Linked DNA regions of Homo sapiens: regions 2, 3, 4 and 5 are each linked to region 1. A link means that fine-mapping ties the variant in region 1 to the plasma level of a protein whose gene starts in the linked region. Region 1 holds a variant in brackets. A gene starts in each other region. All regions are shown on their forward strands.

Region 1 (6,334 bases):
TCGAGTTCACTGAGCATCTTTCATGTGTCAGCTATATTGGTAACTGCTTTACAAAGGTTATCTCAATACATCTTCTATCTCAAGGTAGGCATCATTCTCACTTGACTTGGGCTGAAGGGGCATTGCTACTTGAAAGAAAAGATATCAGTGGATGACATGGCAGTGAGGTTGAGCCTAGGATAAAAAGTGGCTTTGAGTGTTGCCTAAAGGGCTGGATGCCTTCTCTGATAAACAAGTCAAAGCTGAAGAGAGACCCGGGGGGAACTTTGAAGACCAGAAGTTTGACTGGGTAATCAGTAAGACTTCTGGTATCCAGAGTGCTGTGGTGGTGGTGAAGACATGGTGGCAGGGGGTGAGGAACAAAGCTGGAGTGTGAGTACAGTAGATGAATACACCAATTGTGGACTCTGAGTCATAGTCCTCTCCTGTGGCAGAAGGTGGCACCATGTGATTGATATGGGGGATGTGGATTTTCAAAAGAAGGACTCTCTCTCACACATACACATACACACACACAAACACACACACACACACACCTGTTTATCCCCTACATTCTTTTAGGCAGAAGAAGGTATGCTTTATTCTGTGTTCAAATAATAGTTAGTGCCCTGTATATATCCCTAATTTCACTGTCATCTCTGTTTCTCTTATTTGACATAGTGTCTGGTATCCAATAAGCGTCAATAAAAGTTGAATGTCCACAGTAGGTAAATAAATAAAAGAAATGGTGTGTGTCAGTGGGGGGTGCAATGGACAGGGAGAAGACATAATGAACGAGAGTTTGAAGATAAAGCTAAAATCAAAGAATCTGACAGTCCAGTTTCAGCCTGGAAAAGAAAACAGCAGAAAAGCTGAGTATCAGGATATCTGATACAGTGGGTATGACCCCTGCTACAGTGGGTAAAAGCAAGGGAAACATGACCAGTTCTTTCAATGAAATGGAGCTCATGTAAAATTGAAATACTTTTCTACGTGTGTGTGTGTACACACATGCTGAAACTTAATATTTATACACAAACAATTGGTCTTTCTTGCAATAAGAAAATAAGTATGAACTGGTCGATGCTTCATAAAAAATGAGTATTCCTGGTTAGCTTTTGTTTGCTCATTAGTTTTGTTTGAATATTTGATGGGGAGAAAATGGAGTTCCAATTTGGGTTTATGTCTGTCATTGTTGACTTATTCTGTGTTTAAGGGAAAAAACAACAAAACGAGTGTTAAAACAAAATATGCACTCAAAAATTTTATTTTGAAGCCAGCTACTTTCATATACCCTGAGACTTCATTATATGGGGCTTGCCTTTATGCACTAATGAGTTAAAATACATAGGATAAAACACTAGCACCTGTATAAAAAAGTCTGAGCACCACAACAAATCAGTTAACTCCTGTTGACAATTAAGGGGTACAATAAAAAGTTGTGTCCTTTGCTTCACTGTGATCCATTGAATGATCATTCTGTCTAGTTTTCTGGGAAACATTTTCTGGGAAATGTTTCTGGGAATGATCATTCTGCCTTGTTTTCTGGAAATTCAGACTATTTGGCTAATCTAGTAAATGGTAATTTACAGCCCCGTGCTTTTGCTGAAGTCAATGTCAGGCAAATCAAGAGATCCCCAATGAACACATATCTTAAATGACAGTGAAATAATGGTTTTTTTTAATGTTCATTACTTTAAAAGCTTACATTTAGGAAACTCAAGCTTTGCTTTTCTATAATGGTTAACTTTTCCATATTATCATAAGAATCAACTTTCTGATTAATATTTCTCCCTTTTTTCTTAAGAAGTCAATAGTTCTTCATATCCACAGTCATGAGTCATTTTTGAGGACATGCCAGAATTACCAATGTAACTGTGAGGCAGGAAAAGTACACTCTAGAAGAAACAAAATATGTTAGGTCTTCAGACTTCAATCAGGTTCAAGATAGATGTATATATGCCATTTTTCCAACTGTATACATAGAATTCTTAGCTAATCCAAGATAAGTAGAGCATATCACCAGGTTCTTCAAATAATTGCAATTTATCACCCTAGTATTCATTCTACACTCTATAATACAATTTTGGATAAATCAAGGCTTTTTAATTCAGTTAAATAAAGCCATAAGTCCATAGGGGTTTGATTCAACAATACATTTTTAATATAGCTTTAAAAAGGCAAACGAATTTTAAGATCACCAGGGGCAAATGCAGAGCATAAGACATTCACTGGATCCAGTTACGTGTGTAAATGCCCTTTACCAAGTCAATACTATTAAAGAGACTAGTGGTTGTGGCAGAAATTGTTTCTGCTTATAAGGGAGGCAAGCCAGGTTCTAGTGTCCTCAGCAAAGGCACAAACTCATAGCATAATGCCAGGCCAGTCATTTAACTTCCCAGAGTCTCATTCCCTTCGCTGACAAAATAGGAAGATTGAATCAGTTGATTTCTCATGATTAACTATTTTCATATCCAGTGAATTTTCAGCTTATCAGCTACTCAATTGCCATCTGCTTTTCTTCTCTGTCTTCCATCACAATGCAAATGCCCTCCCATGTGTATCTCATGACTGACTGATTGTTCCTTCTACCACTCTTGGTGACATACTCAACACAGTGCAGGGATAAGATACACTAGGCAAGGTTAAGTGAAGCCGGCCAGCACACTCACCCCAGGGAAGTCAGAGTAAGCCTGTTTCCACCGCAGCACAGCAGTGAGCACAGCTAGGCAGAATTCCAGCAGAGTGCAAATCAGCATCAGAGAGAGAG[T/A]TCCCTGAAAGTCAAGAAATAAAAGATTGATGTTGCTTAGGTCAGCTGAAGCCTTCATGCCTAGTTGAGAGGTGACCATAGAGATGAAGACCACCTCAACCATTAGAGAATGAAGAAAGGACACCATCAGGAAGATAAAACTGCTCCTCCCACACCTCACAATTGTCTTAATTCAACCCCTTAACTCATTTCCTTGAGAGGAGAAAGGGAGATGAATAGTAATTAAATCAACTAATCTACTTCATACACTTATTTCTTACTTCTTTGAGACATCCATAGTTCTGATGACATTGTTCACTCGGTAAGAAAGCAGAGTGGCGTAATAACTCCCAGGACTGAGAATCAGCAGCTCCGTTCCAGTCTCACCTTTACTGCTTAGTAGCTGTGTAAGCCTGGACAAGTCTCTCTCTTTCTCTAGCTCCTGTTTCCTCATGTATCAAACATGCATACTAACATTTCTTTCTCAGAAATTTGTAAGGATCAAGGAGGTTTTGACTGTGCAAGTCCTTTGTAAAATTTAGTATTGACATCCCTGTCTATGTATCTGAACCCCTTTGTATTTCTTCTTGATTTTTGTTGTTGTTTCTTTGTTGTTTTTTCTTTTTTTTCTTTTTTTTGGGGGTGTAACTGTAAGGCTTAGAAAAAAACAGTGAAGGTAGTAAACTGTCAGAGTTGCTAATCACCAACACCAACTCACAAGAATGAATTCTATCATTTCTGTCCTGAGACATTCTTTGTGCAGAACTGGCCATCTGATAATAAACGGAAATAATTTGATCACATGAAACTTTGGTTTGTGGTATTTATACACAGTTAAAGAGAAGATATAACTTTTTCCATTACTGGAAATTGTTCCAGCAAGCAAACTTGACAGAATCTCTCTTATTTCCAATGTAAAATCGTCCCATCATGAATTTATACTTTATCACTACCAAATTTCTCTGAAATTTCTCTTCAGAATTTTTCCCAAGGTGGAATTGGCTGTGCCAGGTATTAATCTGTGCCAATTGCTGTCAGCCTCATTTACTTGTACTTTTTCTCATTATACCATTACCTTGGGAGCAAGGCCCTCTTTATAATGAGTGCTATACAAACATGACTTTGACCAGACCTTTCTATCTGTCCATCTTCCAGCTGAGTTCTTGGCTTATCTTGTTTTTATGATTGCAGGACAACAAATATTCTGCAATTTCTTTATTCCTTTTTTTTTTTTTTTGAGACGGAGTCTTGCTCTGTCACCCAGGCTGGAGTGCAGTGGCGTGATCTCAGCTCACTGCAACCTCCGCCACCTCCCAGGCTCAGGTAATTCTCCGCCTCAGCCTCCCAAGTAGCTGGGATTACGGCTGCCCGCCACCACACCCAGCTAGTTTTTGTACTTTTAGTAGAGATGGGGTTTCACCGTCATGGCCAGGCTCATCTTGAACACCTGACCTCGTGATCCATGCACCAGGGCCTCCCAAAATGCTTGTATTATAGGGGTGAGCCACTGACCCAGCCGTCCCTTTACTCTTATGTTGCCTGTTTTTCTCTCAATGTGTTGCTGACCATGCACATGCCCCTTAATCTTTCAACTTCAGACATATTATTTCTATTAGCCAAACTTCATTATTTTTCTTCTTCCAAAGAGATAGAATTCTCCTGCAATCATTCTCAATTACACTCTCCATCTCCCTATATTTCTTATCTCCTGATTTAATATATCACACTTCTTTCAGCTATAACAAAAAGCAACAATAATGTTGCATTCTCACCTGATCAGTATTATTCATTATTGTGATCATTAGAAGAAGAAGCCCTTATCTTCTCATCCCATATTTCCTATCCTCTTTTTCTTAGTACTGAATCTGATGTCTTCTCAAACCAAATTAACTCCTTACCATGCACACATACTGTTTCCTTGTTGGCCTATTCTGATCTCCTGGGTCTTTCTGCTCTGTTTCCATTCTTAATTCACCACTCCATGTACCAAGATTCTCATTTTGATAAACTCATAATTTATGCCTCCAAAATTGGATTAGTTTGATAATTAAGAACCTCTACAAACAGTAAGTTTTAGTTTTTCATCATCAACCTTATTTAACATTTTCAATTCCACTCTATTAGTATGTAATCCCCTTAATCTCATCCCTGTAGTCCCCTTTGATTTACATAAACCTGGCTTTCCCCCAGATGCCCAAACCAGAACCAATAGAGAGATTTTCAAAAGAAGGAATAACAAGAAATCAAGGCTTTTGAATACCTCATAAGATTAGAACATCCCATCTAAAAATACTTACAGCCAGACTGGCTTTGGCTGTATAGCAGTCCGTGGTATAAAGTGAATCATGATAAAAGTAAGAAACATAACTTCTTGTTGGTATATTATTTTTGTCCAACTCACACTGCAGTGAGGCAGGATTTAAGGTGGCCTGTTTGACAGACAGGATAATGAAACCCACCAGGGCAGACAGAGCACTCAGAATGCTTCCAACCAGGCTGCTATGCACCTGAAAGAGAAATGTTGGGTAAGGATCATTGCTAATGACTCATGAATCTGTTATGCATCTTTGCCATTAAATTGTAAGTTATTCCCTTATCTGTCCCCTCAGGAGGTCTGGGATTGATCATTTATTGCTGTATGCCTCTCCAGTGTCCAGCAAAAATCTCTCAATCTCCAGGGTAATTCTTGGCTGAATGAATGACTATACGAACTGGTTCACCTTAAGCAGGACCTCAGTGGTGTGGTAGAGAATGTTACTCTCCTAAATTCTTTCCCCAGGACAGATAGCAGGGCTTTCATGAGGCTTTACCTGCAACATTACCAAGAGAGCGTGACCCAAAGTGAAGGTGGCAACGTACCAGATGCAGTTTCTCTCTCGCTCAACTCAAAAACCCCTGGCGGAAGCATCAGCCACATGGAAAAGATAGATCATGTATTAGCATGGTGCAAAAGTAATTGTGGTTTTTGCCATAAAACCACAATTATGTTTGCACCAACCTAATAGCTCACTCTCGCCTGCCCATTGCTTCTCTCAAAAGCACACCTCTCAAAGATGAGTGAGGGGGTGGTTCTGAGTCTCAGGCAGGCCCTGGAACATGGGCAGGCATATGATTGGCCACACTGAGTGCAGTATGGGGTGGCTGTGGGCAGAGGTCTAGGTGCAGGCCCAAGGATGGTGTAATGTGTGGGAGGCAGCGGGAAGTACAAGAAAAAGGTCTGAACTGGAGGTCAGAATATTGAAGTCACAGTACTAGACTTGCCTTGGTTTATTCCCTTGGGTAATCAGTTCCTTGATTTTATTTCCCACTCTGGTTCTCATTTATACATTTATGAAGTGAAGGGAATAGATAAACTAACCTCAGAAGTGACTTCTTTTGTACTCCAACTCACACAGAAAAGAGAATTGAGCTAAGAGTACTCTGAGAGCTATAGTTACAGGTAGGTAGGCTCCAGGGCACACCTCACAGCCATACAGTAGAATGTTACTTAATCCCACATGGGCACTTCTTCTTTTAGGAACTCACCAGTTGATACTCTGGGACCCCAATTTCCCAACATAATGACTGAAGTGTACACTCCTGGGCCTCCTAGTAGCCAGTAGTATT
Region 2 (6,334 bases), not on the chromosome of region 1:
ACTCCCCGGCCCTTCCCTTATGTGACCAGGCACGGACAATTGGGAGCGCAAAAATCCAATGAACTGTCCAGCCAACTGGAGTTGGCAGGGAGATGGCCAGGACAAAGTTATCCAGACAAGACTTATCCATACTAGAGTCCTAGAATCTCCCAGGTGGAAGGGGTTCGAAAGTCAAACGCAGTTCCCTGGCCTCATTTTTCACCAGGGAAAAGAGAGGCCCGACACAGCGGATTCCTTTGTCATTATCTGTAAGCCGCATCCCTGGGGGCGGCAGGGCTGTCACCCGATGTCCCGAGTCCCAGCCCAAAAGCCCCAGCGCAGAGACAGCAGGGCCGCATCCCCCTGTCCCGCCAGGGCGCAGCGGAAGAAGCCGCCCCTCTGCCCAGCCCGGTCCCCGGGGCTTTGTCTAAGTTTGTCAACAGTGGAGGTGGAGGGCGGGCGCCGGGCAAACTTCCGAGCGGCGCGGGGAGGAGGGGCGAGGGGCAGAGGGCGGCGCGATCCACTCACCCAGGGCGACGAGGAGGCTGGGGGCGCAGAGCAGCGCGCCGCACAGCGCGGCCAGCAGGCGGGGGCGCGGCATGCTGCGGGGACGCGGGCGCTGGAATGGGCACGCTGGGCTGCTCAGACCCCGCGGGGTTCTGGCGCCTTCTCCTCTGGGACCGGAATAAATCAGGCGGCTCAGCACCTCCCACTGGCCGTGCGCTCCGCCCAAGCTGGCCAGAGGCGGACTGGGGGCGGGGCTCCGCGGCTGGGAGGGAATTGGTTGAAAGGAATTGGGGGGCGCGGGGGTGGTCCGCGATATCTGCCTCTTCCGCCACTGCCACACCGGCGTCCCGCGTCGTGCCAACGGCCGGGTCACGAGTCTTGAGTCTGTTGGGCGGGAAAAGTTCAGGAGTTTTGTTTTTAAGATTTTTAGACTTGAAAAGATGCTAACTCTTTATTCATAATCAGATAGATGCAAATTAAAACTACAATGAGCATCGTGTTTCCCTTCTCGGATCGGCAAGTATCAAGATGTTAACAAGGTTAGTGGAGGCTGTGGGGAACAGGTCCAAGCATGCTTCGCTGAAGACAGTATAAATTAGTTCAACTTCCCTAGAGGGCTATTTGGTAACACCTATCAAAACGACAAATGCTGACACCTTAAGACCTAGCATTTCCACATAGAGAGATTCATTCTACAGAAACTCCCATGTGCAAAATGACAGATATACAAAGATAGCATAGCAACATTGTCTGAAATGGTAAAATACTAAAAAAAAAAAATCAGCGAAGGTTTCTGTAAAGGGCCTAATAGAAAATGTTCTCTGATATGTAGGCCCTGAGTCTCTGTAGCAGCTATTCATCTCTGCCTTTGTTGCAAGAAAGGCACCATAGACAAAATGCGAGGAAATGGGCACCTGTTTGCCGAAAGGGAATAAAACAAAGCAAGCCTGTCACCGTTGACTTTTTACTAAATGATTTGTACTTATCATGTGCAAATATTACCTGTTTACAAATAAGTGATTTTAATAATAGTGTTTTGGCTGGGTGCGGTGGCTCACACCTGTAATCCCAGCACTTTGGGAGGCCGAGGCACGTGGAACACCTGAGGTCGGAGTTCAAGACCAGCCTGGCCAAGATGGTGAAACCCCGTCTCTACTAAAAATACAAAAATTAGCCGGGCGCAGTGGCAGGTGCCTGTAATCCCAGCTACTCGGGAGGCTGAGGCAGGAGAATCGCTTGAACCCAGGCGGCAGAGGTCCCAGTGAGCCGAGATCATGCCACTGCACTCCAGCCTGGGTGACACAGTGAGACTCTGTCTCTAATAATAATAATAATAATAATAATAATAATAATAATAATAATGCTTCAGGCTGGGAGTGGTGACTCAAGCCTGTAATGCCAGCTCTTGGGGAGGCCGAGGTAGGCATATCACTTAAGCTCAAGAGTTCGAGACCTTCCTGGGCAACATGGCAAAACCCTGTTTCTACAAAAAAAGAAATACAAAAATATTCCAGGCGCATGCCTGTAGTCCCAGCTACTCAGGAGGCTGAGGTGGGAAGATCGCTTGATCCCAAGAGGTCGAGGCTGCAGTGAGCCACGATTGCACCACTGCACTCCAGCCTGGGCAACAGAGCGAGACTGTCTCAAAAAATAATAACAATACTAATACTAATAAGTATTTAAGTCAGACTAGCCAACAAACAAAATAGAACAGTCACACATCTCCCCTCCTAGCTGTGTTGAGACCTAAGTTGGGACTAGAGTCCACTGGCAAGATGCCCTTCTTAAAATATTCAGAAGCGGGTACTGGGCGTGGTGGCTCATGCCTGTAATCCCAACATTTTAGGAGGCCGAGGCAGGCGGATCACGAGGTCAGGAGATCGAGACCATCCTGGCTAACACAGTGAAACCTCGTCTCTACTAAAAATACAAAAAAAAAATTAGCCGAGCGTGATGGTGGGTGCCTGTAGTCCCAGCTGCTCAGGAGGCTGAGGCAGGAGAATGGCGTGAGCCCGGGAGGCGGAGCTCGCAGTGAGCCGAGATCGCGCTACTGCACTCCAGCCTGGACAACAGAGCAAGACTCCGTCTTAAAAAAAAAAAAAACATATATATATATATGGGGAAAAGACATATAGGATCAACTCAATAATCACAGAAAAAGCATTTGATAATATCCAACACGTCTTCGTGATAAAACACTCAACAAACTAGAAGTGAAAGGGAGCTTCCTCAACCTGATTTTTAAAAATCTATGAAAAACCGATGGGTACAGTGGCTCACGCCTGCAATCCCAACACTCTGGGAGGCTTAGGCGGGCAGATCAGCTGAGGTCAGCAGTTCGAGACCAGCCTGACCAACATGGTGTAACCTGGTCCCTACTAAAAATACAAAAAGTAACCAGGCATGGTGGTGCACACCTGCAATCCCAGCTACTCAAGAGGCTGAGGCACAAGAATCGCTTGAATCTGGGAGGCGGCAGTTGCAGTGAGCCGAGATTGCACCCCTGCTCTCTAGCCCGGGTGACACAGTAAGACTCTGTCTCAAAAAAAAAAAAAAAAGTGTGTATATATATATATATATGTATATATATATATATGTGTATATATATATGTATATATATATGTGTATATATATGTGTATATATATGTGTATATATATATGTATATATATGTGTATATATATATACATATATATATGTATATATATGTGTATATATATATACATATATATATATATATGTATATATATGAAAAACCCATAGCTACTATCATACTTAATGGTGAAAAACTGAATGTTTCCCCTAAGCTCAGGAATAGGACATGGTGTTCTGCTCTCATCACTTCTATTTCATCACTGTGCTGGAGGTTCCAGCCAGGACAATTACGCAAGAAACAGAAAATACATCCCCATTGGAAAGGAGGCAGTAAAACTATCTCTATCTCTACTTACAGATGGCATGATCTTGTATATCAAAAACCCTAAAGAGCCAGGCGCAGTGGCTCATGCCTGTAATCCCAGCACTTTGGGAGGCTGAGGTGAGCAGATCACCTGAGATCAGGAGTTCAAGACCAGCCTCAACATGGAGAAACCCCGTCTCTACTAAAAATACAAAATTAGCTGAGCGTGGTGGTGCATGCCTGTAATCTCAGCTACTCGGGAGGCTGAGGCAGGAGAATTGCTTGAACCTGGGAGGCGGAGGTTGCGGTGAGCCAAGATCGCGCCATTGCACTCCAGCCTGGGCAACAAAAGCGAAACTCCATCTCAAAAAAAAAAAAAAAAAAACAACCCTAAAGAATCCACATACACACACACACACACACACAAACACACAACTATTAAAGATAATAAATGAGCTAAGCAAGGTTGCAGGATACACAATTAATATACAAAAATCAGTTGTATTTCTTACACTAGAAATAAACAATCCAAAAACATAATTTTTAAAAATCCCATTTACAATAGGATTAAAAAGAATAAAATACTTAGGAATAAATTTAACAAAAGAAATACAAGACATGGCGGGGCACGGTGGTTCATGCCTGTTATCCCAGCACTTTGGGAGGCCAAGGTGGGTGGATCACCTGAGGTCAGGAGTTCAAGACCAGCCTGACCAACATGGCGAAACCCTGTCCCTACTAAAAATACAAAAAGTAGCCAGGTGTGGTGGCTGGCACCTGTAATCCCAGCTACTCGGGAGGCTAAGGCAGGAGAATCGCTTGAACCTGAGAGGCAGAGGTTGCAGTGAGCTGAGATCGTGCCACTGCACTCCAGCCTGGGTGACAGAGAGAGACTTCGTCTCAAAAAAAAAAAAGAAAAAGAAATACAAGTACGTTGAACACTACAAAACATCATCAAAAAAATTAAAGAAGATCTAAACAAATGGAAAATTATCCCCTGTTGATAGGTTGGAAGACTTGTATTGTTAAGATGCCAGTACACCCCCAAATTGATGTACAGACTCAATACAATCTCTGTCAAAATTCCATCTGCCCTTTTTGCGGAAATTGACAAGTTGATACTAAAATTCATACGGAGGCCTGGCGCAGTGGCTCATGCTTGTAATCCCAGCACTTTGGGAGGCCAATGCGGGAGGATCACAAGGTCAGGAGATCGAGTCCATCCTGGCTAACACAGTGAAACCCCGTCTCTACTAAAAATACAAAAAATTAGCCGGGTGTGGTGGTGGCCGCCTGTAGTCCCAGCTACTCGGGAGGCTGAGGCAGGAGAATGGTGTGAACCTGGGAGGCAGAGCTTTCAATGAACCGAGATCACACCACTGCACTCCAGCCTGGGTGACAGAGCGAGACTCTGTCTCAAAAAAAAAAAAAAAAAAATCACACGGAAATGCAAGGGACCCAGAATAGCCAAAACAATCTTGAGGAAAAAAAAAGAACAACATTGAAAGACTAACATTTCTCAATTCCAAAACTTACTACAAAGCTATAATAATCAAGTCTTCTAATTAGAATTTACTGTTCCCAACCTGTCTCTCTTAAATTTGCAGTCTCTCCTATAGTTCTTATCAAACTTTGCCTCATATTGGAATGATGGTCGCAATACCTGTCACTCGATTGTAAGTCCTGGTATATGGAATAATGTCATATGTATTCTTGTCACCCTAGCCCAGCACCTTTTATGTAGAAAGAGATCCATCAGCAGTGTTACTTTCAGTCGCCTCCCTGTGACCAAGCCTTCTCCCAGAGAAGGAAGCTGCCCTGCTCAGGGACATATGACCCATCCCCAAACCACAGGCTCCCTCATGGTCTTCAGGGTTGAGCCAAGAAGGCTCACCAGTCACCCTCTGGGGTTAAATTAATGATACATACATAGTAAACAAATAAAAACACTGGTAAAGCCAGGTGCGATGGCTCACGCCTGTAATCCCAGCACTTTGGGAAGGTAAAACACCATCTCAAAAAACAAACAAACAAAAAATTATGCTAAGTGAAAGAAGCCAGTCACAAAGACCATGTTGTGTATTACTCCTTTTCTATGAAATGTCCAGAAAAGGCAAATCTATAGAGACCAATGTTAGATAAGCAGTTGCCAGGGGCTGGGGTGAGGGGAGAATGAGGAATACTGTTCGTAGATACAGAGTTCCTTTTGGGGGATGATGAAGATGTTTTGAACTTAGTGATAATGGTTGTATGACCTTGTGAGCATACTAGAAACCACTGAACTGTACTTTTTTTTTTTTGAGATGGAGTCTCGCTCTGTCACCCAGGCTGGAGTGCAGTGGCTCAATCTTGGCTCACTGCAACCTCTGCCTCCCAGGTTCAAGCAATTCTTGTGCCTCAGCCTCCCAAGTAGCTGGGGTTACAGACGTGTGCCTCCACACCCAGCTAATTTTTGTATTTTTAGTAGAGACGGGGTTTCCTCATGTTGACCAGGCTGGTCTCGAACTCCCAACCTCACGTGATCCGCTGGCCTCCGCCTCCCAAAGTGCTGGGATTACAGGCATAAGCCACTGTGCCCAGCCTCTGAACTGTACATCTTAAGAGTGTATTTTTGGTTATGTGAATTTTATTTCAATAAAAAATAAATACAACACTTCAGAAATCCATCTCAGATGGCAGGTAGAGAATGCTGCGAGCATAGCACCCTTACCAGTTAATGCCACTTACTCTTGCAGAACGGAACTTCCTAATCGCCCTCACTGGCTTTCTGCCACCCACGTGAAACAACTGCACAGTTACCCAATTAAGACACATTTAATCATTGAGTCATTCAAGAAACATGCATTGAGCACTGACTGTGGTTAGCTTTATGACTGGAAACCTCAGCTGCAGACTAGCCTCACTTGGGAAGATTCTTCAAACACAGATGACCAGGCTCCACCCAGAGGAAT
Region 3 (6,334 bases), not on the chromosome of region 1:
CAATTCTTTGTTGTTGTTGTTGTTGTTGTTGTTGTTGTTGTTTTGAGACCGAGTCTCGTACTGTCACCCGGGCTGGAGTGCAATGGTGCGATCTTGGCTCATTGCAACCTCCGCCTCCCGGGTTCAAGCAATTCTTCTGCCTCAGCCTCCCGAGTAGCTGGGATTACAGACATCTGCCACCATGCCCAGCTAATTTTTTGTATTTTTTAGTAGAGACAGGGTTTTACAGTGTTGGCCAGTCTGGTCTCAAACTCTTGACCTCGTGATCCACCCACCTCTGCCTCCCAAAGTGCTGGGATTACAGGCGTGAGCCACCATGCCTGGCTTCAATTCTTAAAGATTTGAATTAATTGAGTCCCTAGATTAGAAATAATTTTTTTGGTTACAGAGTCCCATCAGTTTTCTGGAAAAACGGACAAAAGGCTAAAGCTAGTTTCATTCATCACAAGGTCGCCATCTCTTAGTTCTCTAGTTTCAGGCTATTTCACTTGCTACAAGATTTGATTTTAAGAGAGATCTGTATGGAAGCATTTTAAAGTTAATGTCCAAGATTGAGCTCAAATGCAATGTGGATTCTTCTTTATTTTGAAATATTTATAGCTTTTCTATTTTTTGGCATACTCTTAATCGAGCATGCTGCCGATTGCTGGTCAATTGGCTTCGACACAGTAGTCCAGGGCCACAGTCGCAACGCTGGAAGATTTCTGGAGCTTGAGCAGTGTCTTTATGCCCTCTTCTGGAGCAGACCTGTCCCTCCAAAAGGACTGGCTTACAAATTTTCGTCCAAAAATGACGAGCACAGCAAAGTCCAGGGCCACAGTCAAAAGTTCTCAGACAACTTTCTCCCTCTTGTCCTGTAACAAGGTTAATGTGGGCTTTAGTGATAAATAAGGAAAGTGGCCTGCTGGGGGTTTGCTACTGGGATAAGGGAATGGGACCTATGACTGACAGCCACAAAGTAAAAACAGACACAGCACGCAGGTCTCACAGAGCTAGGTGTTACGCTAAAAGCAGTAATGCCATGGCGACTCCACCCCTACCCATCAGAATTGATCGTTGTTACTGGCTGCAGACTACCTTAGGCTACTCTCTACGTGACCCCCACAGCTTCTTACAGAAAGAGATAACAAACAGCACATGCTTCCTAAGTGTTTCTGGGATGGAGAAGAATAAAATCAGTCTCACCCTATCCTTAAGAGGCTGGGAGGAGAAAATGCATTTCTGAAATAAAATATGCTGCGAATGCTGTTCTTACCCTTCCTGCCTTGTGATTTCTTAATACTTGGCTTCCTTTTGGGTTGGTTTTCCTGGACTGGGTGCCCAGTTGTTCCTTCTGCATGTGTGCCATCTTGCTCATCAAGCTGCCTTTCTAATATTGGGGTTGCATCTTCCATCGTAGTACAAACATCTGAGGGACAACCAGGTGTAACTAGAATTATTAACTTCAAGGGGGAGAACCACAGACACACTAATTATCCTACTGTTGCATAGTTTGGCAGCACCTCTGCCTTCAGTTTATATATAACTTTCTAGATTTCTGGAACATGTGCTAAATATTTACATGCTCGCATGTGGCAGAGAAAGTAGCTAAGTGGAAATTGCATTCCATTAAAGGTAGTTAATGGTATCCAAGTGGAAATGGAAGTATTTGAATGATTACAACTTGAGTCTTTCCTTTAAAATCATTATCTCCAAGTCATTGGCAAGAGCTGTTGCCAGGAAATAAATTATTTTGTTTCATTAAGAAAAGGCAAGCCGGGTCCGGTGGCTTACGCTTGTAATCCCAGCACTTTGGGAGGCCGAGGTAGGTGGATCACCTGAGGTCAGAAGTTCGAGACTAGCCTGACCAACATGGTGAAACCCTATCTCTACTAAAAATAACAAAAATTAGCCGGGCATGGTGGTACATGCCTGTAGTCCTAGTTACTCCAGAGGCTGAGGCAGGAGAACCACCTGAACCCGGAGGCCGAGGCTGCAGTGAGCTGTGGACAACAAGGGCGAAACTCCGCCTCAGAAAAAAAAAAAAAAGGAAAAGAAAAGGCAGCTGCATACATTTACTTCAAGCATGAATCTAGGAAGCACCATTAGAGAGTGCCTACCCTGGAATATTCTAGTCTATGGGGCTTAGACACTACCTTCGGTTTAAAAACCACTGTTGGCGTTATGTCGCTCACCGTTCACACAGAGTGTCCCAGGGCAGCACATGGCATCTCGCTGGCACCTCCTCCGCAACCCACGACATGTAGCACAGAACGGCTTCTCATCGCGGGGCTGGAGGCAGAACTTTCTGGTATTGCAGTCCGTGTCAGACAGGCACTGTGAGCCCTGTGGAGGGAATCTGTTATCACAAGGCTAGGAAACCCCCAACACGATGGAAGATGACTTATTATTGAAGGCAGGAGGCGGAGGGAGCCAAAGGACAGTGGCGCTGTGACAAACCCTGGGCAGCATCTTACTCTCCAGTGGAAATGGTTTTCTCCCACAAAGGGAAGCTCATGTCACCCGGGGAGACCTAGGCGCTGCAAAGGCTATTTGAGTTTGAAAAATTGACTTAACTCAGAATTTAGTTTTCCTGTGCTCTTTGTGAAAATGGGAAAAAATGTTTTCCTATGTGTGTCTTAACAGGTGAGTATGAGATTTTCAATATATCTTAACTCTAGAAGCTGGCTACAGTTTCATTAAACATACTATTGATGTTTGTGGCATTCCTATTTGATTTTTTACTCTAGTGAATCACATTTAGCTTAGAGACCCTTCCCTAAGTGAACTGTCCTTTGATTTTCAATGATGCCTCATTGACATAGAGAAAGAGATACCGAAGATCAATTGTTCTCATACACAGTTGATGCTTCTACATAGACATACAACGTAGGTGTAGCATATATGATATATGTAATAATCTATACGATATATAATAACATATACACATACATAAAGCGATTCCTAAAACAACTCTCTCTGTGAAGTTAGATGGTGACAAGGCAATGCATCATGGCCCTCTGTTTAAATTCTCATTCCCATGTTTGCTTGCTGGCTGTGTGAGCTTGGGTAAGCTCTTCAACATCTCTGAGTCTTATTTCCTCATCTGGAATTAGGGAATGTTTCACCTATCTCAAATTGTGAGGAAGAGTACATGACGTATTACATGTAAAAGAGCTGGCACATAGTAGAGCTTCCAAAGTGTTCGTTTATTTCGTGATTTATAGACAAACGTATGGCCGAATGATGTGAAAAGCCACTGTGTTTATTTCATACATTCACACTAAGGCCACTGATCCTACCAGGATGCCCTCCCAAATCCGAAACCAATTCAATTTACCTGCTAGGTAAGACATTTCATACATGAATCAGAATGACTTACTAAAGCCTAAACAAAACACCCCAGCTGTCAGCAGTCCCGTACCTCGCCCCCCTCCCTAGCAGCCTTACCTTCCGGGCCCCATGCAGGTCAGCAGAGCTCCTGATGTTGTTGAAGTCCAGGACCAGAGCTCCCAGGGGAGAGCAGAGCCAGCTCAGCCCCAGCAGGACGGCCGCCACCATCCTTCAATCCCGGGGCTCCTGGAGGGTCCCAGCACTGTGCGTCACCAAAGCGAGGCTGCTCTCCACCCAGAGCAGAGCTTCCACTAAGCTGGCAGCTCAGCACGTCGTCTGTTTGTCACTGCTTTTTCTGAAAGAAGTAAACCTTAGTCTGAGTAAGGTGCGTGAAATCGGCTGAGCAAAGTCTGACCAGCAGGTTCCTCCTGAAACTATTTATAACCAGATGTGCCTCCTCCCCGCTCCGTTCCTTCCTCCTGCCCCACACAGGCTTCAACAAATCCCTTCAAATCTGTTTGATCAATAGTTCAAAACAAGGACTCAATAGAAGGAGAGAAGAGGCAGGGCCATGCGGCTTCTCCTCCAGGGGTTCAATCCCTCTTAATTATTGCATATCAAAGTTAGTTCAAAGGGCCACGGCAGAGCAGGATGTCTGTATCAAAGGCAAACTCTGATAATCACCTGCATTTCCTACCTTCAGTAATCCTTTGGGGGTAGGGAGGGAGTCTGCCCTAAGATCTGTTTTCACAGCTAATTGTGCTCAAAGAAAGGATGAATCATACTGGCCAATATGCTATAGAGGATGCCAAAAACTAATGAGGTACAAAATACACTGAGAAGCTGTAAACTGGGCTTCAGATAGTGAGGACAGATAGAAAAAGAGAAAACGCCCCCTGATTAGCTCTGGCATCCAGATGTCAAAATCCCAACCGCTTAAAAGTTGTGAACGTAACAGCACCTGTTCTGACTAAATGCCATTTGGGAAATTACTTTCCTTTAAATGAAAATTGAACTGTTTGAAGTTAGGGTTATTAGGAAAATAATGTAATTTATGAAAATCCCATTTTTCAATGGTGGGAACAATGATAGCGCATTTTACACAATTCAGTACGAAGCTTTGGGTCCATTTTATCAGCAACATATTTAATTTGTGTTGCATTATGTAAAACTCACTTAAGCAGAACAAGGATCCAAGTCTCTGGCTGATTTCAGATGAAATTTCATGTATTTCCAATTTTCCTAATACGAATTTTTTAAAACTTCTGCTTCATCCCTTTCCTGTCTGATTTTTTTCCATTTGGACTATTAGTCAGGTAATTTAGACATGTGCTTATCACTGTCTTAAATACTTTAAGGGTAGAACAATCTAGATCTGGATCAAAAAATCATTTTTTCTCTTCATTGTTTCATTGCTCTTAGCATAGAGTCATCTAAAATGCATTTTTTCTATGCCATAAATGATAATCTTATTATTTACTACATTTTCCTGCAGAACAACCTAACATCAATTCATTGACATGAATCTCAGCATTCTGTGCATGGGAACATTCTCAATTTTGAGTAATGCAGTGCCATTCCGAGGGTGATGCAGGTGATTCGAGCCTTCCTACTACTTGGCCCTTGTCCTTGGGTTGGTATTGCTTGTCTACCTCTCGTATGGAAGTTACTTGTTTTAATCCCTTAAACTGACATCAAACAACACCCTTTGATAGCATGATAACCCTGGTGACTAGGGGTGTTACAGAATTTATTTTCAAGTTGTACAATTATGACCAAGGATAAAGGAAAGAGCCCCCAGGGTTCTGTCTCTGCCGGGTTTCTCTGCTTCCTGCTGCCTCACTGTAAGGGAATTTCAGGTTACCAAAGGCCCCTGGCAATATACACAGGCGAAAGAACTGACGGGAACTCCTGTAACACGGCACAAACAGCCACTGAGCACTTAGAGCACTTGGCATGGAACAGAGCCTCGGATTACATGTTAGGAATAAAATTTGAAACTCCAATGGCCGGGCACAGTGGCTCACACCTGTAATCCCAGCACTTTGGGAGGCCAAGGTGGGAAGATCTCCTGAGCTCAGGAGTTCAAGACGAGCCTGGGCAACATATTGAGATCCTGTCTCCACAAAAAAAAAAAAAAAAAAAAAAGTAGGCCGCGTGCGGTGGCTGACGCCTGTAATCTCACCACTTTGGGAGGCTGAGGTGGATGGATCACCTGAGGTCAGGAGTTCGAGACCAGCCTGGCCAATATGGTGAAACCCTGTCTCTACTAAAAATATAAAAACTAGTCGGGCGTGGTGGTGGTCACCTGTAATCCCAGCTACTCGGGAGGCTGAGGCAGGAGAATTGTTTGAACCTAGGAGACCGAGGTTGCAGTGAGCCAACACGGTGCCACTGCACTCCAGCCTCGGCAACAGAGTGAGACTCCATCTCAAAAAAAAAAAAAATTAGCCAGTCATAGTGGTGTTCACCTGTAGTTTCAGCAACTCAGGAAGCTGAGGTGGGAGAATCATTTAAGCCCAGGAGATTAAGCCTATATATATATATATATATATATATATAGAGAGAGAGAGAGAGAGAGAGAGAGAGAGAGAGAGAGAGAGAGAGAGAAAGATTCAGACAGAAAACTTGTATGTATGGATGACAGAGCCTGGGTGACACAGAGAGAGAGAGAGATCCAGATAGAAGACATGTACATATGGATGATTTCAATGTATTATGACAAGCACTAAAATAAAGGTATAAATATAAGGGTGGAGGACTTATGAAGATATAAATACAGACGAAGGCATGATTTAGACTTTCTAGAGAAATAAAGGAATGTGTTTACAGATGAGGTAATATTTGAGCTGAATTTTGTTGGTTGCATAGGGGCTTCCTAAGTTGGGAAGTCGGAGATATCCTCACCTGGGCTCAGAGGGTGAGGTGTGTGCAAGAGGGAGGAGGTGCACTCAGGTGCTAGTGAGAGATTGTGTGGCTGCGGCAGATGATGGAAGGATGAGATGAAGCAAGATGCAGACCC
Region 4 (6,334 bases), not on the chromosome of region 1:
GCCCTTCTCTCCCAGCTGGCGGCACCAGGCCTTGCGCCTCCCCCAGTGCTTCATGGAGTCATAGGGGCAAGACACCTGCAGGGACTGGCCCGCCACGCCCTGGAACACTGTGGTGTTGTGGGCTCCGGACAGCTCTGGGGAGGAGACATTCATTCACTCCTTTGTTTACCAAATACGCTTTGAACACTTGCTCTGTGCAGTGACCTAAACAGACAAAAATCCTGCCCTGAAGGAGCTTAGGTTCTTATACAAGTTGGGAGCGGATGGCACAGCATGTGTTTGTGGGAAATTGGGAACCAGGAAACCTGGGACCTGGGTTTGGTTTTCTCACTGTTGCTCTTGCTGGGCCTCCTTGGAGAAGTAACTGACCTTCTCTGGGTCTATTCTGGAGGCACTTGGTCTTAAAACCCCCTCCAGTTCTGTTCTGCACATCTCTTTGCCATCATTTGGGACTGGGACCTCTCCTCTCGGCCTGGGGCTGGCTCTCCCTGCCCCGCCACTCTTGCTTGCTCTGCAGCCGCCCACATTGGTACCGACTTTCCTGACCTTTAACTTCCAGCTTCCCTATTTCTGTGGCTTTGTTCCCCTTTCAGGAAGGACCCGTCTCGGAGATATTTTGGGGGAGACATGAGGCTGCTATTTTGGGAACCCTCCTTAGGGCGGGGGAGATGGGCTTAGAGCACCAGCCTGTTGCTGGGGCAGCCCCCAGAGCCCCCTGCTTTGACTTCTCTCTTGGTCCTCCCTTGCCTGCCATCTTCAACCATTACTGTGACAGAGGCTTGAAAGATAGGATTGGGAAGTTGGTGGCTTGCCTTTTGGAACTAGAGAGACCAGATGGGCCGTGGCCCTCTCCCATCTGACCACCTCCCATCCATGCCTCAGAACCCCGCCTTCCCCCTGACCACCATCTAAGAAGCTGCAGGAACAAGACTCCATTTGGCACCGTCTCTCCTCTTGCCCAGGTTTGTCCAGTGCTCTGGGGGAGCAAAAGGTGCGCTTTCCTCAGCGGGAAGAAGCAATTGTGTACAAAAATTTGGTGTGTCAATTCCCCTCAACTCAGCAACGGAAATCTCTACGCTCCTCACCTCCCATCAAGAGCTGAGGACAAGGGGACCTTCAGAGCAGGGGAGAGAGTGCCCCAAAGATGCAGATGAACATCCTCAGGTTCTTTCCTCCTTTATAACTGTAGGGGCTCATAATTAGTGGCTTATAATTTCAGAGGCTATTACCAGTGCCAGTGCCCCCCAAAGCTTCCCCCAACTGCCAGCTAGTGCCTGGGATGCCACTGTTAGCACTCCTTCCCTTCCAATGCAACCAGAGTCCACCAGCCCCTTACATGTCCACATGCAGAAAGAGTCTGAGGGTAGGTTTTGATACTGGGGAGGGAAGGAGGGTGTGAAGAATATGGGCAGGGTGGGGAGGAGAGGAGTGCAGAACAGGGCACTCAGGCATGCGAGGACTGCCACCGCCTTCATAATTCACCCCAGGGCCCACCACCCGCGCCCCAACCACATGCTCAAAGTGAGGGAGAGAAGGCATCACAGGGCACGGAGGGGATCCTACCTGTGACAAAGAGTAAGATGAGCAGCCGGAGAGGCTCCATGCCACCCTTCCCCAGCCAAGGGCAGAAGCAGAGTGCCTTGTGCAAGATCTCGTCTTTCCCTTGAACTGCAGAAAAGAGAGGATCAGGCATGTCAGGCGCTGCCCACAGGAACTGGGCTCCTGGGGATTAAGCAATAGTCAGGACTGGGGTCTGGAGGCGGTGCAGGGTGGGGACAGAGGGGAGGAGGAGTCGGCCACTGCAGCCCTGGCAGAAGGAGGCTGAGTCTCCCAGACCTCTGAGAAGCCAGCCCACCCTCCTGCTGGTGCCAGCCAGGGTGGCCCCCAGATGGTTGGGGCTGGTAAGGCCCTGCACTGCTCAGTTTCCTTGCAGAGCCTAGCCCAGGGATCACTATCCTCACAGCTGTATTCAGACCCTCCACCAGCTGCAATGCCCGCCATCTTCTGGTTTCAGCCTTGCAAGAGTTGGAGAACAGCTGTGCCTTTAGAGGCCAGGACCCTCATCCAGCACCTCTTAGTTCATCCCCCCAGGGCTGTCATTCCTGTAGTGTGGCAGCAGTTAAGTACACAGCTCTGGAGCCAGACTTCCTGACTTTCTGGGTGTGTAACCACACATCCAAAACCTACCTGTGTCTGTTCCCTGATCTATACAGTGGGAATAATGATAGTGCAAAGGGTTATCAGGAGCACCATATGGGTTCCTACAGGTAAAGTGCTTTCCAGTAGGGCCTGACACACAGCATTCAACAAATACTAACTATTACCATTATCCTAGTTAGAAGGGAAAAGGGAAATGGGCTGTCCATAAGACAGAAAATTTTCTCTCCCACCTGGAATTTTCTGCCCAAGTTTAGCCTTCTTGGAACTGTTGGGTGTCTCCTGTGCACACATGCTCACACTGGTGTTTATTTTGTGCACACACATGCTTGAACTCCTGATCATCCTATCCTACAGGACAGGACAGGATATTTCTCAGAGTTCTGGGGGTAGGGGTGTGTTTTTCTACACGTACAGGTTCCCATGGTGATCCAAGCACAGGGACCCACGTGTGCAAAGGCACAAAAGTGTGAAATGGCCCAGTGAGTCGGGGATTGGATGGAGGAGGCTTGAGTCAATTCTAGGAGTGGGAAATGGAGTTGTGCTGGGAGTGGCAGAAGAGGCTGGAGAAGCCTGCAGGAGCCTGTAGATTATCAGGGTCTACTTTAGTTTCCTGCAAACACTCACTTATTTGTTCTTTTATTCATTTATTTACTCATATTTACTGTGCATCTAACTTACGGACAGGGAATGTGCTTGGAGATGGGGAATTCATAGTGAGGAGAAGACAGGCCTCCACTCAAAGGGCCAACTGCCCGGCCTTGCCCCAAGGGCCTGGGGGCTGAAGTCTGAGGCTGCCTGAAGATCACTCTGTAGGTACTCTTCTAGGGTCTTTTTCTAGAAGTCAGGTTTATTGGCCCATAATTTACATATACAAAAATTTACCCCTTTTAAATGTCTAGTTGTGTAAATGTTGACAAACTCATGCATCTCTATAACAACCACCACAATCACCATGTCTGTGTAACACAATACCATAATATAGAAAGTTTCATTTAGCTTAAGCGAGAGCCTTTGTGCCCATTTTAGCCAGTCTCTTTCTCTCCAATCCAGGGCCTGGCAACTACTAAGCTGACATCTGTTTCTGTAGCTTCCTGCCCTTCCTAAAATGTCATAGACATGGAATTAAATAGTATGTAGCCTCTTGGGTCAGTCTTTATTCACTCATCAGAATAAATTCAGCATGCGTGAAGTTTCACTTCTCAAGAATGTATTCCTTTTTATTGCTAAACCATCTTTCATTCTATGGTTGAACCACAAGTAGCGTATTCATTCACCCGCTGATGGATATTTGGGTTGTTTCCAGTTTGGGACAATTATAAATGAAGCCACTATAAACATTCATGTACATATGTTTTGTGTGGACATATGTTTCTATTACCCTTGGATAAAATCCTAAGAATGGGACTGCTGGGTCACATGTAAGTGTATGTTTAAGTCTATAAAAGCTGCCAAAGTCTTTTCCAAAGAGGCTGTACCATTTTTACATCCTTGTCAACAGTTAATATTGTCAGGTTTTAAAAAGCCTTTCTAATAGGTTTAAGGTGATATCTCCTTCAATTTTAACTTGTATTTTTCTAGTGAGTAACGATATTGGACATCTTTTTGTTGTTTATTGCCATCTGTACCTTCTTCAGCAAAGTATTAGTTCAAAACTTTTGTCCTGTCCATTTTTAATTGTTTATTATTATCATTATTATTGAGCTGTGAAAATTCTTTTTATTCTGGATAGCAGTCCTTTATCAGATATGTGATTTGCAAATATTTTCTTCTAGTCTGTAACTTTTTTTCTCATTTCCTTAGCAGCATTAGCAGCATCTTTTTTTTTTTTTTTTTTTTTTTTTTTTGAGACAGAGTTTTGCTCTTGTCACACAGGCTGGAGTGCAATGGTGAGATCTCAGCTCACTGCAACCTCCGCCTCCCAGGTTCAAGCGATTCTCCTGCCTCAGCCTCCTGAGTAGCTGGGATTACAGGCACCTGCCACCACGCCTGGCTAATTTTTTTGTATTTTTAGTAGAGACGGGGTTTCACCACGTTGGCCAGGCTGGTCTCGAACTCGTGACCTCAGGTGATCTGCCTGGCTCAGACTCCCAAAGTGCTGGGATTACAGGCATGAGTCACTGCACCCAGCCTAAATGGATAGATGTTATTTCTGATGAAGTCCAATTCCTTGATTTTTCTTTTTACAATTTGTGCTTTTCTGTGCTCTGTTAAAAAGTTTGCCCATCTCAGAGTCACAAATATTTTCTCCTATGTTTTCCATTGGAAGTTTTATAGTTTTAGGTTCTACATTGTGGTCTATGATTCATTTTTCATTAATTTTTGCATGTGGTATAAGATGCACTTTGCAATTTTTTCAACATATGAATGTCCAATTGTACTAGCATAATTTGTTGAGAAGACTTTCTTTTCTTCATTGAATTACCTTAGTGTATTTGTTGAAAATCAATTGACATGTAGGTCTAGTTCTGACTGTTCTGTTCCGTTGATCTATATGTCTATTCTTTCTCCAATATCACACTGTCTTGATAACTTACTGTAGCTTTACACTGTCTTAAAATCAAACAGTGGTTCTTCAAAATGGTTTTGACTCTTCTAGTTACTTTGCTTTGCCATGTAAAATTTAAAATCAGCTTGTGGATTTCTAATCCTCTTCTTCTCACCCCCAAAAATCTGTTGGGCTTTCAGTTGGGATTGCATTGACTCTATGGTTTAGTTTTAGAGGGAAATAGACAACACTGTTGAGTGTTCCAAGCCATGGACACAGTTCAGCTGTCCATTTATTTGTTTCTTCTATGATTTCTCTCATCAGTGTTTTCAGTTTTCAGCATACAAATCGTGCACATATATTGTTAAATTTCTACCTAAATATTTTATGATTTGGGGTGCTATTTTACATGATTCTAGCTTTCTGTTTCCTAGGCAGAAGCATAACTCATAAGCTCCATAAGTTTTTATCTTATCTTCTGGTCCATTTAAGCTGCATATTGACCCCATGTCCCCACTCCTTCCCACATGAGGAAAAGGTCTTTAAACCTCATGGAAAAGCGAAGGCACCAAGAAATCCTTACCAATTACTCACAGCACATGTACATCAAAGGCTCTTCTTTAAACTTGTGTTAATTTTCCTGATCCCTCGATCCTATATTTGAGCACAGGAACAGTTCTGCACCACCCGCACTCCCAAGCACAGGATTCTTCTTTTCCCTTTGCTAAATCTGAATTCAAAGATACCTTCCACCTCACATCTGGGCACAGAGTTTATGTCCTTCTGTCATTACGTCTGAACTTCCTCACTCACCGATGTATGCATTCATTCATGTGCCAGGCATGGTGTTACAGAACCATGGAGCCTTTGTGTTCCTAGATATGATGGTGACCATTGCTGGGGAAAGCCTCAGAACCAGAAGCATGACTGCACACATGACATGCTCCTGATGTCTAACTTTAACTGAGACCTCACAGCTGCCTGGTCATCCTCTTCAGAACTCCTGGAGGCTAGAGTAGCTGTTCCAAATCATCACTCTCCTCAAACACACACTTTCACTCTCTCTTCTCCTTTCTCCCTAGGAGTAAATCAAGACGGTCAAGTATGAGCATCCTCACCACCTTTCAGATCAGATCCTCCATTATCTTCCCATCTGCACCCAGCCAGCTTGAGCAGCCAGGAAAGCACTAGGTGTTGGTCAGGACCATGGCCAGTGCCAGCCCCTGTGCTAGGCTGGGGAGGCATGTGACTGGAACAGCCGACATAGGAACAGGCCTCTCAAAGCTGGAATAACTCCAATTTGATTAGGCTTATTGTCAGCCCAACCTGGGACAGCCCCTGCAAAGCCTTGCCTGAGAACTGGGCTTAAAGGGGTGATTGGTGGTGTCCATTCCACCCTTGGCTGGGGCCACCAAACTACAAACATAAGAGCCCACAAATGCCATTCACTAATAAGCAGCCACTTAAGACTTCTCTTTCCCAGTTCCTTCTTTGATTCTGTTCTGCTTTTACTTTATCCTACCTTCCTACATCCAAACCCCTGCCTTCAAGTCCCAATCTTTATCCCGCCTCTGATCTGGCTCAGACTTGACCCTTCTTCCCATCTCTCTCTTTGTATTTGTTGCATCATCCTCTGACACTTTCAGCTCAGGCAGTTCTTCCATTTTAACACTTCATATTTTCCAAGTT
Region 5 (6,334 bases), not on the chromosome of region 1:
ATGAAAGGAATAATGAGTGAATCCTGAAATAGACTCACTCATCTATGGCCAATTGATTTTCAATAAAGGTATCCAGTTACTCAATGGGAAAAAAGATAATCTTCTCAACAAATGGTGCCAAAACAACTGGATATCCATGTAGACAATAATGAACCTCAGCCCTTACTTCATACCATACACAAAGGTTAACATCAAATAGATTGTAGACCTAAATATAACAGCTAAAACTATAAACTTCTATAAGAAGCCATAGAAAATCTTCATGACCTTGGGGTAAGCAAAGATTACTTATGTAAAACCTAAAAGTACAACACACACACACAAAAACACGCTTGATAAACTGGACTTTATCAAAATTAAAAACTGCTGTTTGAAAGACACTATTAAGAAATTGAAAGACAAGAAACAGACTGGGAGTGTATATTGGTTATATACATATCTAACAAATGCCTGGTATATAAAGAACTCCTACAACTCAATAATAAGAATCCAAAGACTTGATTAAAAATTGGGCAATAAATTCAGACACTTTATCAAAGAACAGGTGGCATGAGAGCACATGAAAAGCTGGTAAACATCTTTTATGGTCACCATCATTAGTCAGTAAGGAAACGCAAATTAAAACCACGATGTGATACCACTATATACTTACTAGAATGGCAAAAATAAGAAGACAGAAACTACCCAGTGTTGATGAGGATGTGAAGCAATTATCATATCTTGCTGGTGAGAATGTAAAATGTTTTCCACTTTGGAAAGCAGTTCATCTTTCTATATAGTTAAACACACAGTTACTGTAATAATAATTTTACTCCTGTAAGATAAGAAAAATAATAATGTATGTCCACAAAAGGACTTGTTAAAGATTGTTCCTAGCAGCTTTATTCATAATAACCCCATATTGAAAACATCCCCAATGTCCATCATTTGGTAAACTGGCAAACAAATTGTGGTATATCCATACAATGGAATACTACTCAGCAATAAAAAGGAACAAACTTCAGATACAGGCACAACATTAATGAGTTTCAAAAACATTGTGTGGAGTGAAGGAAGTCAGACACAAAGGAATATGTAAGTGATTCCATTCATATGAAATGTTAGAAAAGACAAATCTAATCTGTAGTTACAGAAAACAGCTAAGCGGGCCAAATATGAGGTGGGATAGAAGTTGACTTTAAAGGGGTGCAAGACAACCCTCTGAGGTGATGGAATTGTTCATTATCTTGATTGAAGCAGTGGTTACATGGGTGTGTACATTATTCAAAACTCATGAAGCTGTATAATTAATATGAGTGTAATATATGGAATGTAACTTATCCCCCAATAAAGTTGATTAAAAAATTAAAAGGAAAGTGGGGCAACCAAGTTTCATAAAGCAAAATATCTTTGGGTAATAAGTGGCATGAACTAACAGCCAATTTCCTTAGAAAACAGCCATATGGATTAATCACCTCTAGAATTATTTGTGCCTGTGCTGCCCAGATCAAAGTTCCAACTCCTGGCAGAGAGGGCCTGAGGGGCTTAGCTGAGGTCAGTTGCTCTCTTCTGGACAGGGAAAAGCTGGACCATCCTGACTGACCTTCCACCCAGACTGCTGTCCTTGTGGCAGGGATGGTATCTCAAAGAAAAATGGAGGTACTGTTACCAGAGAAGGGGCAATGATGACTGCTAAACAAACAAATAAACAAACACCAAAACAGTCTTCCCCTGTGTATTTCCAGGGAGAGTAAAGAGGATGGTGAGGGGCTTCAAACATATCTATGTTCATTCATTCCATTCATTTATTCACTCAAACATAATATGGAGTCTGTACTATTTTCCAGGAGCGTTATTGAGTAGGGACTCGAACGCTCTTGAAGTCTCTCTAAAAAGAAAGAGTTCTTATTAATGGGAGGAAGAGAAGCCTGGTAGGAGATGGTTACCTGGAGTGGTTATGGGGCTTAAACCTGTTTTTGTTTTTTTGTGGGGAGAGGGGGATAGAATTCAACGACACAAGAAAGAACTTTGCAGCAGTCAAATTTGTATCTTTTGGGGTCCTGTAAAAGCTGGAAAACTCTTTAGTCTGGAAGAGGAAGATGGACAGTCAGAGAAGCAGATTCCAGAATTCATGTCCTGTCTAACCCACAAATGGAAAAGCCCGTTCATGGTTTTAACATTCCATCACTGGGCCTCCCGGGGCCTCCTCGGCGAGTCGGCAGAGGGAGCCATTCCCCAATAAATTGCCGCGCGAGGCCTCCGAGGACCTGGGGGGATTTTCCTGCGCGTCCGGGGAGTTCTCTCTCCGCCCCTCCATGGTAAAGCAGACTATCCCACCCTCCACCCTCTGCCTTCACCTCCCCGCCCCACCTTTCCATGTACTTTGCTGCCACATCACATTCTCTGGCACGGCTTAATCACCATCCTTTCTGGGTCCCACCTTTGCGCTTTCTCCCCTGACACCACTGAGGACCCGCCGTCCACTCCAGTTGGCCGCTCGGGCGCCGGCCACCGTCCCACAAATCCTTACAGAGGGTCTAGAACACCTCCCAGGGACTCTGCCGAGGGACTTGCACCCAACGTGGGTTGGGAATCAGGCGGGCACCCACTCTGACACCCCTTCGGTCACCCCCTGCGGTGACCCCAACATTTGCTAACTTCGCGACCAGGCCTTTGGCGGGGTCACCCACCAGGCGGTGGAAGCCGCTCAGGCAGGGGCGACTCACGATCGAGGTGCAGCAGTCAGGCCGGGAAGATCCTGCATGTTGCGCTAGGGACTGCGCGCGGCGCCAAGCGACAACCCCCCAGCGGCCACTGCCCCGGCAGCAGCAGCTGCAGCAGCGGCAACTGCTCGAATCCCGGCCCCGGCTCGGGTTACCCGCCCCCACCCCCTCCAGCATCTCGGGCCAGACAGAGAAAACCTTGTTCAAGTTTGCAGCAAGTACTTTCCCGGTGCGCAAAACTGGGCGACTGGGAACGCGTTGAGACGTTCCTCTTTCCCGCTTCTCCACCTTTACGCCTGAAAGAAGACTCCCAAAGATTGCTTTCTTCTGGGACGCTGCTTGGACGCTAACCGCGTTGATTGGAACAGATTTTGTGTCTTGGCTGGCTTTGGGTGAAGACCGGGGAGAAAAGGTTGCGCTGCGATTCTCAAGATCTCTGGACCTGGGTAAGAGTTGGGCAAACTCAACTCCGGCGGCTCCTGGACCTTGGCCGGACGCCGGAAGGCTTCTCATGGGCGGGGGTCACATTTTCCTTAGCCAGGGTACCGGGGTGCGGCGTGAGGTGGGGCGAGATGGGCTCAGTCTGCGTTGTTCATGCGCTTCTTAAGGGTTTATTGTTGTTTGCATTTGGTTTTGTTACATGGGATTGTGTAGGAAAATCCTGGAGTATTTTTGATGGAGAGACATCCTCATTACGCATTTTATTTTGCATAATTCCTGCCCTTGTATTGCCTTACCTTGTGTTTGTTTCATTTTGCCGGGCGATATAGCTGGATGTAGGGAGATTTGTGGGGAATCGGACTGAGCTTGAAAGGCAGTTTCAGCTGGGCCCTTTCTTCTAGGTCAGTTGAACTTCCTTTCTGGGATCTTCACTGTTTTCTAAACTTCTCTTTCTCCCGTCCTTGGTATTCAGATTGTGCAGATAACGCTCTAGGCTGGCGGGATGCTCCCCTTTCCTGAGTTCTCAGCGATCAGTAGGGGTGTGAGGTCGCAGTCTTAGACCAAAGGGGCCTTGTCAGTATGCTTGGCTCCTTAAGGAGTGCTGGGAGGGACGGTTTTTCAAGTGATAGTTACTTAAGAAAGATAAATCCGGTGTTGATCTTTTTCTTTTAAATTCCTTGTTAGAGGACTTTTACGCCTGGTTTAAGGAAGTGTTTTGGCCTTAATTTTCTTTCTGGAAGTATTTTTCTTAGTGACACCACTGAGCAAATGAATGATGGCAATATCTTTGCTGCTTCTTTAGAAAATATCCTCACGCAAGGACCCACATTATTTAGGAGAAAGTCAAAGTTGGAGATCTTATTAGCCAAAATTAGCCATTATTATTGTTCTTAGGCTGTGATAACCATGCTGTGCCAAGGCAGAAGAGAATGACATTTCTTCTTGTTCTTCTTGCCTTACTCCTTTATATCCTGGGTCTCACTTTGTGTATAGGGTTCCCAAATAAAAATGCTTCATTCCTTATGGACAGAAATACTGGGGCCAATTTATATTATCCAGAAATGTCATCTTCCTGACACGAGTGCTCCAAGAGGTCAGCTTGCAGGGAACTTTTAATTTTACCACTGAGAGTTCAAAGAGTTCAGTTGGTAAACTCTGGGCACCCGCCAGCCTGGGTTCAGCTCACAACTCTGCCACTTTTCAGTTCTGTGATTTTGGGGTAAGTTACTTAATCTGTTTATCCACATATGTAAAATCAAAATGATAATAATAGCACTTACATCAGACAATTGTTAAAGGGATTAAGTAAGTTAATGCATGTGAAGGACTAACAAGCCTGACACATAGTAGGCACAAATTAGCTTTATTATTATTGTATAGCTAGCATTAACTATTGTTGTATCCCTCTAGTATAGCTTCTATTAGCTGTCAGTAAGTGTTAGCTATTATTCCTATTTGGATGGACTTTGAAGACTGTGCTCATCTGTAAGCTTCACTACCACCTATTGTCAAACTTAGCTCAGACATGATCTTTGTATTGCTTTTTTGTTGTGGCACTTTCAGTTGGAAAAATAAAGGTGTATATGGCAGAGCTGGAATTTATAGGGTGGTGGGTCATGGATGGGCACCAAAGACTACTTGGAACAGGTGAGGAGGTGGGAAATCTACACTCAGTTCACAGCCTGTATACCTCCTTGGAAATCCTTTACATTAATATACTTTCTTTAACCTATTTTTTAGAGGTCACTCATTTGTTCAGTAAGTATTTATTAACCATCTATTACATGTCAAGCACTGTTTTAGGTTTTATATTTTAAAAATGGCTATGCATGAGTATTGGCTTTATGTGCCTCCTCCCATTTCAAGTGTGTGACCTAGCACTCTATAAATTAAATCCCAAGTATTTTTAGCTACACAATTTCCATACCTGTTAAAATGCTCATAAGAGCACATAAAAAGCACGTATCATTGAGAAATTGAACAAAATATTCCCTATGACCTCAAGCAGATTGCTTTTCTCCATTTAGGCATCAGTTTTATTATGTATAAACTTGTGTTGAGAGGTGGGGAAAGAGTAGAATAACCTCCAGTGTTCCTTCTGGCTCCAAAATCCTTAAATTAGCTGCCTTACTTCATTGGTGGCTGTTTTTGAACCCCCACTTTTCTCTTTTAACATTTGTTTTAGGTACATAAATTACGTTACTTCCATCTTTGCATATTCATCAAAGTGAGTAACAACATCGATAATTAATGAAAAGGGAAAAGCGTTTATCTCTGTCTGTCTTTCACTATTCTCAGACTTTGGTTTATACCAGAAGCATGAAGTGGGGAGATTTGTTAAAATATTAGAGTGAACTATGAGAAATTGCTGATATTTGACCATTTTTGACCTAAATAAATGGCAATTTTGTATGGTTCAAACTATACAAACCCTAATCCCTTCTGCCTTGATTTAGAAGTAGTAAGTCTTCTGTGAGTTGTGAGAAGTCTGCATTTTTACAAGTTCCCCAGGTGATTCTAATGCAAAACTCAAGTCACATGCTCATTTAGCAGCAGTGAATTTACCTTCTTTGTGATTGTCTGCTTGGTTTAATAGTGTATTTCTAAAATGCAAATCTGATCATGTTATTCCCTTGTTTAAAAATCTTTGGCAGCTCTCTGGATGGTGAATGTCAGTGTTACCTGGGTGCATGTTGAAAATATAGATTCCAGGGCTTCACCCCAGAAGTAAGGGCCAGTAATCTGCATTTTGAGATCTCCAGGTGAACCTGGTAAAGCTGACGTCAGATCACATTTGGAGAAACACTGGCTTACAGCATAAAGTCTCACCTCCTTACCGCTATACACAAGACCACCTTTGCAGCACTTCTCAGGGTTATTTTCTGCTTCTCTGGTCCCCAGCTCTCCAGCTCCCACTGATCTTGATCTTGTTACTATCTCAAGAATACGCTGTGCACTTTCACTCTTCCATGACCCAGCTGTATATGCTGTTCCTTCCTCTGAAAATGTCTTTGACCCTCTTTCCTGTCTAACCAACCACTTACCACCCATTCATCTTTTAAGACACTATTCAAATCCCTTTGAAGACTTTCCCTCTGAAGTTTTTCCCAATTATCTCATAAACTTAGCGATATCTCATGCGAGTTCCCATTCTTGTGGATAGATTTAATATAGCATAATCACATTGTATC

Alleles and levels. Alleles are on the strand shown, and positions count from the first base shown. The strength of an association depends on the size of the effect and on how common the allele is.
For the plasma level of the protein whose gene starts at base 640 in region 2, allele A in region 1 goes with a higher level than allele T (moderate association).
In carriers of allele T in region 1, the plasma level of the protein whose gene starts at base 3,724 in region 3 tends to be lower than with A alone (weak association).
In carriers of allele A in region 1, the plasma level of the protein whose gene starts at base 1,637 in region 4 tends to be higher than with T alone (strong association).
For the plasma level of the protein whose gene starts at base 2,888 in region 5, T is the low allele of the variant in region 1 and A is the other (weak association).

The links. PIP is the posterior inclusion probability: the model's chance that the variant is causal. The UK Biobank Pharma Proteomics Project read protein levels with antibody pairs (Olink). The fine-mapping took linkage between variants from a reference panel, not from the people measured, so its PIPs are less certain.
Region 2: it holds the start of MFGE8, and the variant in region 1 is fine-mapped to the plasma level of the MFGE8 protein (UK Biobank, PIP above 0.99).
Region 3: DKK4 starts here. The variant in region 1 is fine-mapped to the plasma level of the DKK4 protein (UK Biobank, PIP 0.98).
Region 4: TREM2 starts here. The variant in region 1 is fine-mapped to the plasma level of the TREM2 protein (UK Biobank, PIP above 0.99).
Region 5: MEGF10 starts here. The variant in region 1 is fine-mapped to the plasma level of the MEGF10 protein (UK Biobank, PIP 0.99).

Annotation. Positions count from the first base shown.
Region 1 is chr11:60,170,377-60,176,710 of GRCh38, forward strand. MS4A6A (membrane spanning 4-domains A6A) reads right to left here. Exons shown (of 6, transcript NM_022349.4): 5 at 5,026-5,235; 6 at 2,121-2,753. The coding sequence ends at 2,625. Among named protein-coding and RNA genes, the nearest start is that of LINC02705, 9.1 kb to the left of the region's middle. The variant T/A (reference allele first, on the strand shown) is at 2,750.
Region 2 is chr15:88,912,740-88,919,073 of GRCh38, forward strand. It overlaps MFGE8 (milk fat globule EGF and factor V/VIII domain containing), which reads right to left and starts at 640. Exons shown (of 8, transcript NM_005928.4): 1 at 508-640. The coding sequence starts at 580. RefSeq lists an enhancer at 1-381 and cis regulatory regions at 5,087-5,320, 5,484-5,604.
Region 3 is chr8:42,373,506-42,379,839 of GRCh38, forward strand. It overlaps DKK4 (dickkopf Wnt signaling pathway inhibitor 4), which reads right to left and starts at 3,724. Exons shown (of 4, transcript NM_014420.3): 1 at 3,430-3,724; 2 at 2,175-2,325; 3 at 1,256-1,408; 4 at 558-854. The coding sequence starts at 3,540. The coding sequence ends at 595.
Region 4 is chr6:41,161,480-41,167,813 of GRCh38, forward strand. It overlaps TREM2 (triggering receptor expressed on myeloid cells 2), which reads right to left and starts at 1,637. Exons shown (of 5, transcript NM_018965.4): 1 at 1,564-1,637; 2 at 1-134. The coding sequence starts at 1,603.
Region 5 is chr5:127,287,909-127,294,242 of GRCh38, forward strand. MEGF10 (multiple EGF like domains 10) reads left to right here and starts at 2,888. Exons shown (of 25, transcript NM_001256545.2): 1 at 2,888-3,148. It overlaps LOC105379199, which reads right to left and starts at 2,828. Exons shown (of 4, transcript XR_007058921.1): 1 at 2,670-2,828.